4 linked regions of the Homo sapiens genome follow. The protein of the gene in region 1 purifies or fractionates together with the protein of each later gene. This does not show direct contact. Each region holds a gene or a part of one and is shown on either strand. Other genes may lie near its edges.

Region 1 (3,500 bases):
CTCCTCAGCAGGTGGGGGCAGTGGGGGGCTGCTCCGGGCCGTGGGAGTCCAGGTCTCTGGCAGGGGTGGAGGGGCTGGTGGTGTGGGCTGCCCCTCAAGCTCAGACTCTGGGGCAGTTGGCTCTCGGACTGGGCCAGGCTCCAGAGGCTGCCGGGGTGCAGGGCCAGGCCGCCCAGAGGCACCTGCCTCAAAGGACCCCACGGGAATGCTGGCGATGGCTGCCTTCACTTTCTGGGGGGCCTTCGGGCTGGGCCGCTGGGCCTTGGGGGCCACTAAGCTGTAGGTCATGGAACCTGCTAGTGGGGAGAAAATTGTTTGCTGAGCCAGGCCTGACTGGAGCCCATCCCCTGGGTCCCCCAACTCACTCTGCTCTGGGTTGATCTGACACCTACCTGTGGCGCTGGGGAAAGGGCTAGTCGGGGCTGGGGTGGCAGTGGCAGGGGCTGGCGGGCCCTTGGGCAGAATGGTGGCTGCAGGTGGGGTTGTGCTGGTGGCCACAGTGTAGACCAGGCTTGGGGGGGCCTGGGATGGCTGGGCCAGGGGTGCTGAGGAGGTGGGTGCAGGGCTGCCAGAGTAAAATGCTGTTATGACAGGACCTCCGGGGGCTGCACAGGCAGGCGGCAGCTGGGGACTGGGCACAGGTGACACGCCCACCTGACCGGGAGCCAGCAGTGGGGCTTGGCCTGCTGAAAGACAGAGAAGAAGAAGCAGGAGACCAAGTTAGGGCCCGGACTGCCTCAGCCCCACCCTGGGTCCCCAGCACTGCCTGCCAGGCCGCCCCTCACCTGAGAGCAGGGGCTGCACGAAGGCGGGGCCGCTGGGCCCCAGCGAGGTGAAGCCTAGAGCTACAGAGCTCGTGGGCCCGTACGAGGTGACTGTTCCAGCCTGGCTGGACGCAGGGCTGGTACCCAGGGGCAGCGCGTGCCCGCCCGCTGACTGCACATAGGTGATTCTGCCGCAGGAGAGGAAATGGGGAGGAGTGAGGTAAGCCGGCCCCGCCCCACCCCTTCCCTGGCCTCTGAGTATGGGCTCAGCTGCAATTACCTGGTGGAGGAGGGCAACAGGACCTTCTGAGGCTGAGAGGTGGGTCCAGGGAGTGTGGCTGGGCTCAGGGGCGGCACCAGGCCGCTGGGTGTGCTCACAGGCACCGGGGTCAGCTGGATGATCTGTGGAGAAGGGCACCCATAGGCCAGGGTGAGCTGTGGCCCCAGACTGGGGCAGGGGAAGACCAAGACCTCAAGTGGGACTCTAAGCAAAAGCAAGGAACACAGAACTTGGGGTGAGAACAGGATGGGCAAGATGACAGTGAGAGGTGGGGACACAGAGAAGGAGGAGGGTACAGACACTGAGGACTTGAGAGAGTCAGGATGCACAGAGACATCACGGAAGATGGCAAGACAGAGAACCAGATACATGGAGAAGGAGAAAAGACTGAAAAAAAAGACAAAGAAATGATGGGGTACAGGGGCCAACATCCAGCAGGTAGAGAGAAAGGCAGGCCCTCACCTTGCTGGGGGGCTGGGCACCATTCTGCACAGGTACTGAGAAGGGCGGGCTCACCAGTGGCAGTGGCTGGCCGGCCCCTCCACCCCGCACTGACATGCTAGGGGCGGCCAGAGGCACTAGGACCTTCCCAGGCAGCAGCTGGGCTGAGCCACCCGGGGGCGGGGCCTGCACGGGAGAAACTGACTGGGCTGGAAGTTAAGAGGCAAGAAAGGAAAAGGTTACAAGGGAGCCAAACAGGACTATGGCCCCTCCCCTAGTGCTGCCCGGCCCAGGTCTCACCTTTGGGGGGTGGGGCGGAGGGTACAGACTGCAGGATGGGGATGCCAGGAGTGGGTGCAGTGGCAGCCAGGACTTTGCCGTTGGTGGAAGTGCCCGGTGGGAGGGTGAAACGGATGCTGGTGGTGGGTGCAGGGCCGCTGGGAGCCGCTGCCTTGGTCCCAGGGGCTGGTGCTGGGGCAGGTGCCACCTGAAGCTGCTGGGGCAGCGTGGGCAGGATGTACTGTACCTGGGTGATTCCCCCAGCCTTGCCCAGGGCACCTGGTTGCAGGATGCCCAGGGGTACTGGCCCATTGGGGCCACTCCCAGCACCTGCTCCTGAGCCCGCAGTGGTCCCACCACCAGGGGCCCCCTGGGCAATGAACTGGACAGCAGGGGGCGCAGGGGCCCCATACCCCGGGGTGCCCACCAGTAGGTTAGTGACAGTGGCAGGCGCCTTCCCCACAGTGCCCAGCAGGGGTCCAGCCACCAAGTGTGGGGCTGGTGAGGTGGCTGCTGCCGACTTCTTGTCCGAATACACTAAGCTGACACCCAGCGGGGAGCCCCCAGGCACCCGAGACCCAGTGCCCATTTCAGTCCTGGCACCTGCTGTGTCATTTGGAGACGCCTCAGCCCGGCCAGAGGTGGGGAAGGGCTTAGAGGCGATGGGCACAGGAGTGCTGCTGACAGGCCGCACCACATTGGTGACCATGGTGGCGGCAGGACGGGACAGGGGAGCTGCTGGGGCCCCATAGGCCAGTGATGGGGCGGGGGCGGAGGGCACTCTGGCTCCGCCGCCCTCTTGCTCCTCCTTGTTTGGGGGCAGCACCAGTGTCTGCAGGATGTTTCCTCCTCCGCTGGGAGGGGCCGCGATGACTGAGGGGCCTGGTGGCTCCAGGCCACCCACACTTTCGGGTCTCTTGCGCCGGAAGGTGGCAGGATCCATTGGGAGGAACCGGGTTGCCTTGGAAGGTGTCGCTGGACCCCCAGCCCCAGGGGGTGGGGGCCGTAGGGGGCCCGCTGTGCTGCCCTGACCAGACTCCTGGGCCTTGAAGGTTCCTGAGCCCAGTGAGAAGGAGGTGGCTGCCGAGGCTGAGGAGGAAGCAGGCGAGGACGCAGAGGAGGATGGGGCGGAACCATAGCCTTTGCCAAAGGCTACAGGAGGATCCGGGGGCCCTGGGGGCTCAGGGTCCAGTGGGGGGCGGCAGTGGGTAAAGGAGGAACGGATCACAGGTGAAAACACCTTCCGACCAAAGCCCTGCATGAAAGGAAGGGAGACACCCCAGGTCAGGACACTCCGACACCTCGATAGCAGCCCCCTAGCCATGCCCATCCAGCCTGTCAGCCAGGCCAGCCTAGGGCTGCACCCCTGCCAGCTGAAGGCCTCAATTCATCCTGACTATGACCCAACTCCCCACGGGGCAAGCAGCTTGCCCTCTCTGGACCTTAATCTCCCCCTCTCTCAAGCCCGGGAGAAACAGACATTCCCATGGCTTAGGAGGGAGTGTGATGGGACAGCACCGTGACCCAAGCCCTCACCTTGTTGCCCTCTGGGTCCTCCCCAGAGCTGTCCCCACTCTCGCTGTCGGTCACCCGCTCCTTGCACTTGAGATCAATGTCAGTGGTGCCGAAGCCATCGTCAGCTGAGGGAGTGGAGGGAACAGTATGGGGAGGGGGCTAGATGCAGGGGGACCCAGGAGAAACAGTCTGGAGCCTGGATCTCAGCTCTGCTCCAAACC
Region 2 (3,500 bases), about 29 Mb from region 1:
GAGAAGTGGGAGGTTGCTCAGGAGCCAGGTGGGCAGCCCAGGGGCCCGGCCTGGTCCTCGATGAGGTGCTACGTGAAGCAGGGGCCGGCTCCCATGCCCACCCGCTGCTGCACCTTGGCCCACTTGGAGAGCGTGGGGCTGTCACTCGGGGTCAGCTCTGGCCCCTTCACCTGGCCAGCTGCCCCTAGATACTCAGCCACCTCCCCAACTGCCCCCCTCCGGGGCCCCCCATTTCTCACCTGGTCTGACTCCAGCAAGCACAGGCAGCGGGTGGTGGGTGAAAGCCATGCGCGGGGAGCTGCCCTGAGAGGAGAGGGCACTGCAGAAGTCCAGCTTTCCTGACTTCTTTAGAGAAGCCGGGCCTGGGGGGAGGAAGCAGCAACACAGGGCAGGTTTAGCTGGGCTGGGGTGGGTGCGGGGAAGGCGGGAAGCCAGCAGCTCGCTCCTTCTCTCCTCAGCCCCTCCCCACTGCCCCTTCCTCCACTGTGCTCCCTCCTGCTGCTCCTTGCCCAGTCCCAGGCCTTGTTCTAGGCCTGGTTCCGAGGCCCTGTGTGTAGGCCAGCCAAGGGGTGCTTCTAACCAGAGAGGAAAACGAGGCCCCTGGGTAATGTGGGGTGGTGTGTGCCAGGCAGGGGGTGAGCAAGGGCCCCAGCCTATGCCCTGGCAAGCAGGTAATGAAGTGAAAGGGTGGGATGCAGGACCAACATTGGGAAAGGAGTGCAGGAGGAACCCCAGGGCGCCAGCTTGAGAGCCGGGAAGGGGTAAGTTTGGGAGGGACAGGCTGGGGTCTATGCCATGGTGCCCGGGGCCATGGGAGGTTCTGGTGGGAAGAAGCCAGGGCCCCGTTTAGGGAAGGGAGCACACAGCCATGAGCCCTCAGGAGGGACACAATGCCCAGCGAGAGAGCAGGGACAGAGGCCAGAGGACCTGGAGAGTCCTTGGGCTGCTCAGGCCTAGCCGGGCTGTGCAGGCAGAGCCAGAGGGGAGAAGACTCCCCCAGCCAGGGGACCCAGAAGCTCAGCTGCCATAGGATGGATAATTTCAGGGCTCTGCCCTGCTTCTGGTGCCAGAGGTGTGGGTGGCATTCAGCATGAAACAAGGGCACAGAGAACACCTTGTTTGAAGTCTGTCTTTAGAAATTCATCTCTGCCCAGTGGCCATAGCATCCAAATGACAAAGCAGGGCCCCCAGGGGGCCAGGTTCTTCTGGAAAGATCAGCTCCCATCTTGGGCTGAGCTTTAAGGTTGTGCCCAGGCTGGGAAGGATAAGGTAGAGTTGGGGCAGATCTCACAGCTGCCACCCTTGGAGGACAAATCAAGTCAGTTTGGGTGAGGGGTGGAGGGGCTGCAGAACAGAGAAATAAAGAGCCATCTTAACTGCAGAGGGAAGGGGCGGGGGAAGGGCGAACTCCCAGCCGCCAGCGGAGGTGTTATCTGGCAGCAGCTGTGTGCCACCTGATAGCTGGCACAGTGGGGAGGGGGGAGCATCCTACCAGCTGTGCACAGCTGTCCCCATGGCCGCACAGTGCCTCCCCAGCTGTTCCCTGTCCTGCAGCTGGGCTGCTTAATTGGCAATTTGTTGCAGCCCATGAAAACAACACACAGCGGGGTGAGGGGAAAAGGGAGCCGGAGGGTGCTGCAGGAGGATGTTGAGGGGCCGTGCGTGGCAGGACTGCCGGAAGGAGCAGAAATGCAGAAATGGCAGGCGCAAAAGCAGACAGCCAAGAAAGGAGAGAGCAGGAGCCAGGAAGAGGGGGGCTCCTCAGGAATTAGGTCTGGGCACAGGAGCCCAGGAGCCCTTGCCCCAGGAGCCAGCTGCAGACACAGTCCTCTATGCACCCCAGGGGCAGTCCTTGCAGAAGGGGTCACCTACTGAGGCCCCGGCCAGGGACCCAGGATGTAGCCCAAGAGTCTCCCGGGCCTTCTCAACTCCTCTCTCTGCCTCTCAAGGCTCCCCTAGGGAAGCATGTGGCCCATGCTGGCCCAAGTCCCTGCCTGCCACGAGGAGAGCCTGGGAGGGGCCCCAGAGTCACGCAAGGAAGCCTTCTCACAGAGGCCAGCCTCTGCTGGCCATCTAGAGGGTCTCCAGCCCACTCCCTCAGCCTGAGGCCTGGAGGCGAGCCCTCCTTTCCTCCTCCCAGGAGGAGGAGAAGCTGCCAGAACTTGCATTCGTTCTGGGGCAGCAGAAAAGCAGGAGTGCTTCCCAGCCCCACCTCGCTCCACCCCAGACTCTGCCTGCCCACTTGGCCCTTCCCAGTAGGGGCATATCTGGAAAACATCAGACAAAGTACCATTAGGTCAGACCCTCACCTTTTGGAGGAGGAGAATGATGCCCAGGGCCCAGGCCTGTCCAGAGCAGCCATGCCCTGTGCACAACCCACACGCGTGAGTCTGCACTCCCAGGCCCTGTCACACCCACAGTGAGGATAAACACGGGCTGTACCACTGGCACGTCAGCGGGGGACTCTTGCGGCCAGCCTCCTCACACACATGTGCTCATGCACATGCACACACACACACGCACGTGTTACATGCTGTCTTCCAGAGTCCTCTCTAGGTCTGTCTGCACCCTCAGTCAAGAATGGAGGTGAAGGGGGGTGGGTTCAACAAGAAGAAGATCCCTAGAGGAGACTGGGAAGGTCTGAGCTGGCTTCCTCTGTACTCTCTCCCCTTCGCTAGCTTCCCTACCTGGTCTCAAAAGGACTCTGCTCATTCTTCACTAGACTCTGAGCCTCTCTCTGTGAAGCTGGGCCCTTGAGACCAGTGGTTCTCATCCTGGGAGGATTCCATCCCACTAGGGAACGTCTGACAATGTCTGGAGGCGTTTTTGGTCATCAAAACTGGGGGTGGGGGTTTTGCTGCTGGCATCTTGTAGGTGGAGGCCAGGGATGCTGCTAAACATCCTGCCATGCACAGAACAATCCCCTACACAGAATGATGAGCCCCCAGGGTGAGAAACTGCTTTCAACCATGAGGCCACGGGGTGGGGCAACCTCTAGAGAAATACCAGGAGGGGCTGCGGCCATCCCACTGTGGGGCACCAGAGGCTTGGCACCCCCTCTGCTTCCCACCGCCATACCACGGGCTCTGCTGCTGACTCTCACAGCACCCCTCCTCACCCTCACCTCCACTCCCTTCCTTCAGCCTGCTCTGCCCTCCCTGGAAGATCAGGAGGCAAGAAAACAGATGGGTAATGCCCCCCGACAGGGGGACAACTGGTGGGAGGCTCACCAGGTGAACTGAGAAGGGGACAAAAAGACTCTGGGCTGCCCTTGCTCTGGGTCAGGATCCCCCGCACCCATACCTGCATCCACATCGTTGGGCCACCCGCTGGACTGGCTGCTGCCAGCTGCTGGGGAACGGCCTGTCCCGGGATAGAACACGTCATCAACAGGGCTCTCCATCTCACTGTCATCGATGGACTTGGGGCGCTTGGTGGTGCTGGGGAAGAAAGAAAGGGTCACATGGGCCAAGGATGGGCTGAGGCTCCAGGGAGTGACC
Region 3 (3,500 bases), on another chromosome or scaffold:
GAGGTTTCATCATGTTGGCCAGACTGGTCTCAAACCCCTGACCTCAAGTGATCCACCCGCCTCAGCCTCCCTAGGTGCAGGGATTACAGGTGTGAGCCACCATGCCCAGCCATCAAGGCTCATCCTCACCAAGTTAGCTTTCAATTGCTACAACATCTTTTTTTTTTTTTTTTTTTTTTGAGATGGAGTCTCACTCTGTCGCCCAGGCTGGAGTGCAATGGTGCGATCTCCACTCACTGCAATTTCTGCTTCCTGGATTTAAGCAATTCTCCTGCCTCAGCCTTCCGAGTAGCTGGGACTACAGGCATGCGTCACCACGCCCGGCTAATTTTTATATTTTTAGTAGAGACGAGGTTTCGTCATGTTAGCCAGGCTGGTCTTGAACTCCTGACCTCAGGTGATCCACCCACCTCGGCCTCCCAAAGTGATGGGATTACAGGCGAGAGCTACGGCGCCCGGCTGCTACAGCATCGTAACAGAGGCAAAGGCGCCCCCTAGAATGCAATGCAACTGCATCTGGAACATGAAAAGGTATACTCCTCACCATAAACTGATACTCTTGGTGTATGCATCTGCTCTTATGGGTTTTGTTGGTATGAATCAGTCTTGCCAAATCTGCTGAGTAACCAGATAGACTGTACCTCTTACTTTCAAAGCTGAAGACCAGATAGAGAATGCCCACACCAAGGCACACCCATCTTGGGAAGTCCTGTTATGGGGCCATTTATTTATTTATTTATTTATTTTGGTGAGGCAGAGTCTTGCTCTGTCACTTAGGTTGGAGTACGGTGGCACAATCTTGGCTTACTGCAACCTCTGTCTCCCGCATTCAAGTGATTCTCCTGCCTCAGCCACCCAAGTAGCTGGGTTTACAGGCGTGTGCCACTACACCCAGCTGATTTTTTGTATTTTCAGTACAGAGGCGGTTTTGCCATGTTGGCCGGGCTGGTCTAGAACTCCTGGCCTCAGGTCATCTACCCCCCATTGGATTTCCAAAGTGCTGGGATTACCCAGTTACTTTTATTTAGTCATATGCCCCATCCTAGTGTCTTCAAAGTATCAAATAAAACATATTATCAAGTGTCTGAGTAGAAATTAGGGAGATGTTTAAAAGTAAGTCACATTAGTGAAGAATGTGCCCATGTGCAGCATACTGTTTATGATTAACACCCACTTGATCATGGTCATCTGACAACCAGCACAACAAATCTAAAACAAGGGTTGTCATTAGAAATTTTTAAAAACCTAAAAATCAAAAACAAGAGTTGTCATATGAAATGAAGTTATTCTGCATGAAAAACCATGTGAGAAGACTTGCAACCAACTTCCTACACTGGGATAACAAATAGCTCAGGAAAGCTTAAAGAGAGGTTTAGTGCACAGAGTCCCTCTACTTTAGAGACCTCAGGGAACCTGGCCACAGCCAACATGAAGCTAATATCAGAATATCTGAACACTAAAGTAAGTAGGATGCTCAAATAAATGTTTGAATTATCAGAATGGTGCCTTAGCTTTTCCATTCTGAAATTATGAATTATCTTCCTTGACGTGAAACAACCAGAAACAAAAAATGTTAAGGTTTGTTTTTGAGATGGAGTCTCACTCTGTCGCCCAGGCTGGAGTGCAGTAGCACTATCTCAGCTCATTGCAGTGTCTGCCTCCCAGGTTTCAAGCGATTCTCCTGCCTGAGCCTCCTGAGTAGCTGGGATTACAGGCACCCGCCACCACACCTGGCTAATTTATGTATTTCTAGTACAGATGGATGTGATTTTGTCACGTTGGCCAGGCTGGTCTCCAACTTCTAATCTCAAGTGATCTGCCCACCTCAGCCTCCCAGAGTGTTAGGATTACAGGCGTGAGCCACTGTACCCGGCCACTTTTTTTTTTTTAAATAAAGGTAGGATTTCACTTCTATTTCTTTTCTTTTCTTTTTTTTTAGACGGAGACTCGCACTGTCGCCCAGGCTGGAGTGCAGTGGTGGGATCTCGGCTAACTGCAAGCTCCACCTCCCGGGTTCACGCCATTCTCCTGCCTCAGCCTCCCGAGTAGCTGGGACTACAGGCGCCCACCACCACACCCAGCTAATTTTTTGTATTTTTAGTAGAGACAGGGTTTCACTGGGATTTCACTTCTATTTCTAACATTCTTCCTCATAGTACCAGGCATCTATTGCCTGAGACTTCTTTTTTTTAAGAGAGAGGGTGTTATTTTTCATTAAATTTTCTTTACATTTGTCTATAATAACTAAGTCCAAGTGCTTACAATAAAATCATGATTACAAAAAGGGCATCATAAGAAATAATAAAAACTTCCTTTAAATTCCCGCTGGAGTCAGCTTGAATGAATACTAAAAAGCGAAGTCTGAGCATTTGCTGTTGTAGCCCCCAACATTCTTATCCAGCACCTGTGTGTGTGTTAAGGTGATTCCTCAGGAGGGTGACTGTTCTGAATGCCCTGCCACAGAGATGGCACTTGTGTGGTCTCTCATCAGTGTGGCTTTTCATGTGACGATCCAAATTTGAACGCCGTGGACACGTGTAACTGCAAAGCTCACACTGGAATGTCTTCTTTACACCTATGTGCAAAATAAAACACTTACTTGCTGCAGAGTTTCAAAGTGTTAAGATTAATCCTAATCTTAAATTTCTACAAATATATTTGATTAGCTTTTAATAACAAAACCCAATATAAGTCATAATTATCTCATGTCACTAATACATTTCCTTCTTCTTTGGGATTAAAAAAAGAGCATTCAATCTGGAAAAAACTTATTTTAGACTGGTTTTAAAGAACGGTACCCACATAACGACCTTTTACAAATACGGTTAATATAAAACAACTTGCATATGCACTGTGTTGTATGCTTATCCCAAAATGGTTTTATGAAACCACTATGGATAAACTCGTTTTACCTTTCTTTTTAATTTTTGTTGGCTTTGGAGGCTTCATATTACCAACCACTTTCTCTGCATTAACCTCTGATAGCAGACCCTCCTGCTGTTCTTCCTCAAAATCGTAGACAGACACATCTACATCTTTGCCCTCCTCTGTATAACGCAGTTTGCTCTTTTTGGTTTTCTTTGTTTTTTTGGCTGGTGGCTGATAGTCTGGGTCTTTTTGCCAACTAGGATCTTCCTGGGGTGGAAGTTCCCCTTGTTCTAGTGTCTCCACCTCTCCATTGGCCCCCACTTTAACCACCTGAAACCCTTCAGGCAAAGGTAGGGTGTGGCATATCATGGGTTCACTTTCCGCAAGGCCCTCTTTAGACACTTCATTTTCATAAGCCCCCTGAAGTTCTTCTACTGAAGTGGTAGCAACAGGTACAGTCACAGGAACAGGTACTTGAACAAGCTGAAGTTCTCCTATGTTTATGGGCTGTTCCTCCATATTTACAACCTGTAAAGTTATAATCTGGGTATCGTCCACAGCAGCCTCTGCTTCTGGAGCCACTGTGCCCTCCATTACTTCAGTCTTCATCTGAAGAAGGGTGGGGTCCAGCT
Region 4 (3,500 bases), on another chromosome or scaffold:
TTGATTAAATATATTCTTTTTCTTTGTACTTTTTAGGTAGACAGAGAATGTAGATCATTGAAAGCATTATTTATTCCTAAGATTGGCAGGCACAGAATCATTTTTAAGAACCAAATACCCAGTCCTGCCTTAAAGGCCACATCTATGATCATCAGCTCTGTTAGAAATAACAGCCTGGCATAATTCCTAAATACAAGTCTGTAGATATATCCAGGAGATAGGGTTACACTGTTTTCTAACCTTTTTTAAATCCCTTAATCTTGAGGTAAACTGCATGCATTTAGTCAAACAAGCATCATAAAATTTGTTTCCTCACTGTTTGGGCTTAACCTCCTGATAGCCTGTTTTACTGAATAACTTGACCCTAACCTGTAGAGAATAAGAGCATTCAAATTAGGAAGGCAGGACTATCCATCTTTAGTGCTTTTCCTGCCGTTAAACAACAATGTGAACTTGGTCAAGTCATTTCTGTTCTTTATCTGTGACATGAGGTAACTGTATTAAATTTTCAGCATCAAATCCAGCTATAAATTTGTATTTTGTAAACAAGAGAAAGTAAAGCAGGAGACAGAATGGAGAAGCTGGATAGTGTTTTTTTTTTTTTTTTTTAAGGTTCTTTTATCATCAGATATGACACAAAGGGAAACATCAAAATGCACCGTAAAGTTAAATCCTAGTTACCTTTTTTTGAAGCTGTTGGCAAGGTTTGACCACTTGGGGCATCTTCTGCTGTGAGATGACACTTGAAAAACACCCATCAAAGTTTTCCTGGTAGGAATCTCTCTTTACTGCGTGTTTTTTTGAAAAGCTGACAGAGAATATGCTTTGGCTTTGACACTAATGAAGTCACCCATCATCAATTACATACAGCTAATTGTTGGGAGCTAGAGCTAGAATCCAAGCTTTCTGATTCTCTGCATGGAAGAGGAAATGCTCTAGGGCCCTTCAGGGCAAATCTTAAAAGGAAGTTCTTGGCCGGGCGCGGTGGCTCATGCCTGTAATCCCAGCACTTTGGGAGGCCGAGGTGGGTGGATCACGAGATCAGGAGATCGAGACCATCTTGGCTAACACGGTGAAACCCCATCTCTACTAAAAATACAACAAATTAGCTGGGCGCGGTGGCGGGTGCCTGTAGTCCCAGCTACTCGGGAGGCTGAGGCAGGAGAATGGCCTGAACCCAGGAGGCGGAGCTTGCAGTGAGCTGAGATAGTGCCACTGCACTCCGGCCTGGTGAAAGAGCGAGACTCAGTCTCAAAAAAAAAAAAAAAAGGAAGTTCTTAGTGTGTAATTGACCATCAGGGATAAATGGGCTTCAAAAGTGTTAATTGTCTCCTTACTTACAGTGAGTTTCTAGAGATAGCCCTGTCTTTCAGAAATTCTCTGACATCTGCTTGCGCAATGTTATAACCACTTTCCCACACTACTCCCCTCCAGAAATCTCATTGATATGTGGCGAGGACACGCCTTAGCTATCACCCCAATGGATGCTTCTTTCATTGACCCAAATCCAGAATGTAATGGGGAACTGAATACAAGTTGGATGTCTCCACCCTTGGAAAGCACATCTTTTGTTCTTACTGAAGTAGTTTAACACCACCAGATGATCAAGGGATCAGGGTATCTTTCTGGTATCTTTTTAATCACTGAAGGACTTTGACAGCAGTAATGGTGGCATTGTTGACTCTTAAATTTCTGAACGTTTCACTTAATGGCAAGTGAAGAGATATAGAATCCCCCAAAGAGTGTCAAGATGCTAACTTCCAACCCTATTTTTATGTACTGAAGAGGCCTCAGTGTCTCACTGAACTCTAACCTTTTTGTCAGTGTTCCTCAACACTGGATGCGTATTATTACATAACCTGAGGAGTTAAAAAATACAATAACCAGATGTCCAATTAAATAAAATTAGAATCTGGAGGAGGTAGAACTCAAGCATTTACAGTTTTGTTTTGTTTTTTTTTTAAGACAGAGTCTCGCTCTGTCCCCAAGTGCAGTGGCACAATCTCGGCTCACTGCAAGCTCCGCTTCGTGGGTTCACGCCATTCTCCTGCCTCAGTCTCCCGAGTAGCTGGGACTACAGGCGCCCGCCACTACGCCCGGCTAATTTTTTTGTACTTTTTAGTAGAGACAGGGTTTCACTGTGTTATACAGGATGGTCTCGATCTCCCGACCTCATGATCCGCCCGCCTCGGCCTCTCAGAGTGCTGGGATTACAGGCGTGAGCCACCACGCCCGGCAAGCATTTACAGTTTTAAATCTCCCAGTCAGAATAAATTCTTATTGAGGGCCATACCTAGCCTGTCTTCATCAAACTCATAGGTGAATCTTTGTCAAACCTATAGGAGAGAGATGCAGGCCATAGAGATGGTCTTGCTGAAGGTCTTATAGCTAAATTAGTTCAGATCCAGGAACCAGATTCTGGAACTGATTGCACCTATATTATGTTGTGTGTCAGACACTCCCAGGACCTGTTTGGTAATAATTAGGACAGCTGACATACTTGTTGCTAATTTTGAGATCTGGGCAACAACTGTGTAGGCTGTTCTTTCAACCTCTTTCTTCTTACTTCTTTACTTTTCCTTCAGAGAGGAGAAAGCCACCCCTGTGCTATAGCCACCGCTCCAATTCTGACTCTAGCTAGGTCATGAAACAGACTGAGCTATTATTGCATCAACACATAAATCCTGTCATTTGGGTATTATTCTTTAGAGAACTAGAGATTACCTAGCTGCAACCTAAGTTTCCTGAATTAGAATCATTTGAGCAGCACCATCTTAATTGGCTCATTAACATATTTGTGACCAGGCACAGTGGCGCATGCCTGTAATCCCAGCACTTTGGGAGGCCGAGGCGGGCGGATCTCTTGAGGTCAGGAGTTTGAGACCAGCGTGGCCAACATGGTGAAACCCCATTTCTACTAAAAATGTAAAAATTAGCTGGGCTTGGTGGCGCGCGCCTGTAATCCCAGCTACTCGGAAGGCTGAGGTGTGAGAATCACTTAAACCCGGGAGATGGAGGTTGCAGTGAGCAGAGATTGCGCCACTGCACTCCAGCCTAGGTGACAAGAATGAGACTCCGTCTTAAAACAAAAACAACATATTTGTTCACTTTTGAACCCTGTGGTGTCTTTTAACTTTGTTAAGGGCCCTTGGTTAGCAAAATTATGAAAGTTTAGGAAATTTGGCTATTGAGTATATTAAGTACAACTACAAAATCCTCTGAGTTCTCCAGGAAGCCTAAACCTTGAGCAGTATCTTATTCAAGTGGAGTATATATCTTCAAGAATACAGATTTTTAAGGTAAGTAGTTTTTCGTCTTTGCATCTCCTAAGACCATTGTTAACAACCTTGATATTAAACGAAGAAGTGAATGTAAACCTCCTTTTGAACATATTTTTTATAAAGAAATATTTTGTTAATTGGAGTAAGTAGTATTGTTATGAAATCACTGTGTAATTGTTAATTGTAAACTGCAATGTCTATTTTGTGTTGTAACAATGT

The links. Proteins that work in one complex are often made in the same cells at the same time.
Region 2: the proteins of CIC (region 1) and NFIX purify together in Homo sapiens (affinity purification with mass spectrometry; 2 studies listed by BioGRID). This does not show direct contact.
Region 3: the proteins of CIC (region 1) and CTCF purify together in Homo sapiens (affinity purification with mass spectrometry, with the first as the bait; one large-scale study listed by BioGRID). This does not show direct contact.
Region 4: the proteins of CIC (region 1) and GMPS purify together in Homo sapiens (affinity purification with mass spectrometry, with the first as the bait; one large-scale study listed by BioGRID). This does not show direct contact.

What each region holds. Positions count from the first base shown.
Region 1 is NC_000019.10:42,289,752-42,293,251, reverse strand, and holds part of CIC (protein capicua homolog), read right to left. Parts: intron 3,405-3,500; coding exon 3,301-3,404; intron 3,020-3,300; coding exon 1,786-3,019; intron 1,695-1,785; coding exon 1,507-1,694; intron 1,167-1,506; coding exon 1,045-1,166; intron 953-1,044; coding exon 786-952; intron 687-785; coding exon 393-686; intron 297-392; coding exon 1-296. UniProt on the Homo sapiens protein: Transcriptional repressor which plays a role in development of the central nervous system (CNS). In concert with ATXN1 and ATXN1L, involved in brain development.
Region 2 is NC_000019.10:13,075,475-13,078,974, reverse strand, and holds part of NFIX (nuclear factor 1 X-type), read right to left. Parts: intron 3,441-3,500; coding exon 3,304-3,440; intron 363-3,303; coding exon 240-362; intron 1-239.
Region 3 is NC_000016.10:67,611,026-67,614,525, reverse strand, and holds part of CTCF (transcriptional repressor CTCF), read right to left. Parts: coding exon 2,913-3,500; intron 2,576-2,912; coding exon 2,405-2,575; intron 1-2,404.
Region 4 is NC_000003.12:155,940,150-155,943,649, forward strand, and holds part of GMPS (GMP synthase [glutamine-hydrolyzing]), read left to right. Parts: 3' UTR 1-3,500. UniProt on the Homo sapiens protein: Catalyzes the conversion of xanthine monophosphate (XMP) to GMP in the presence of glutamine and ATP through an adenyl-XMP intermediate.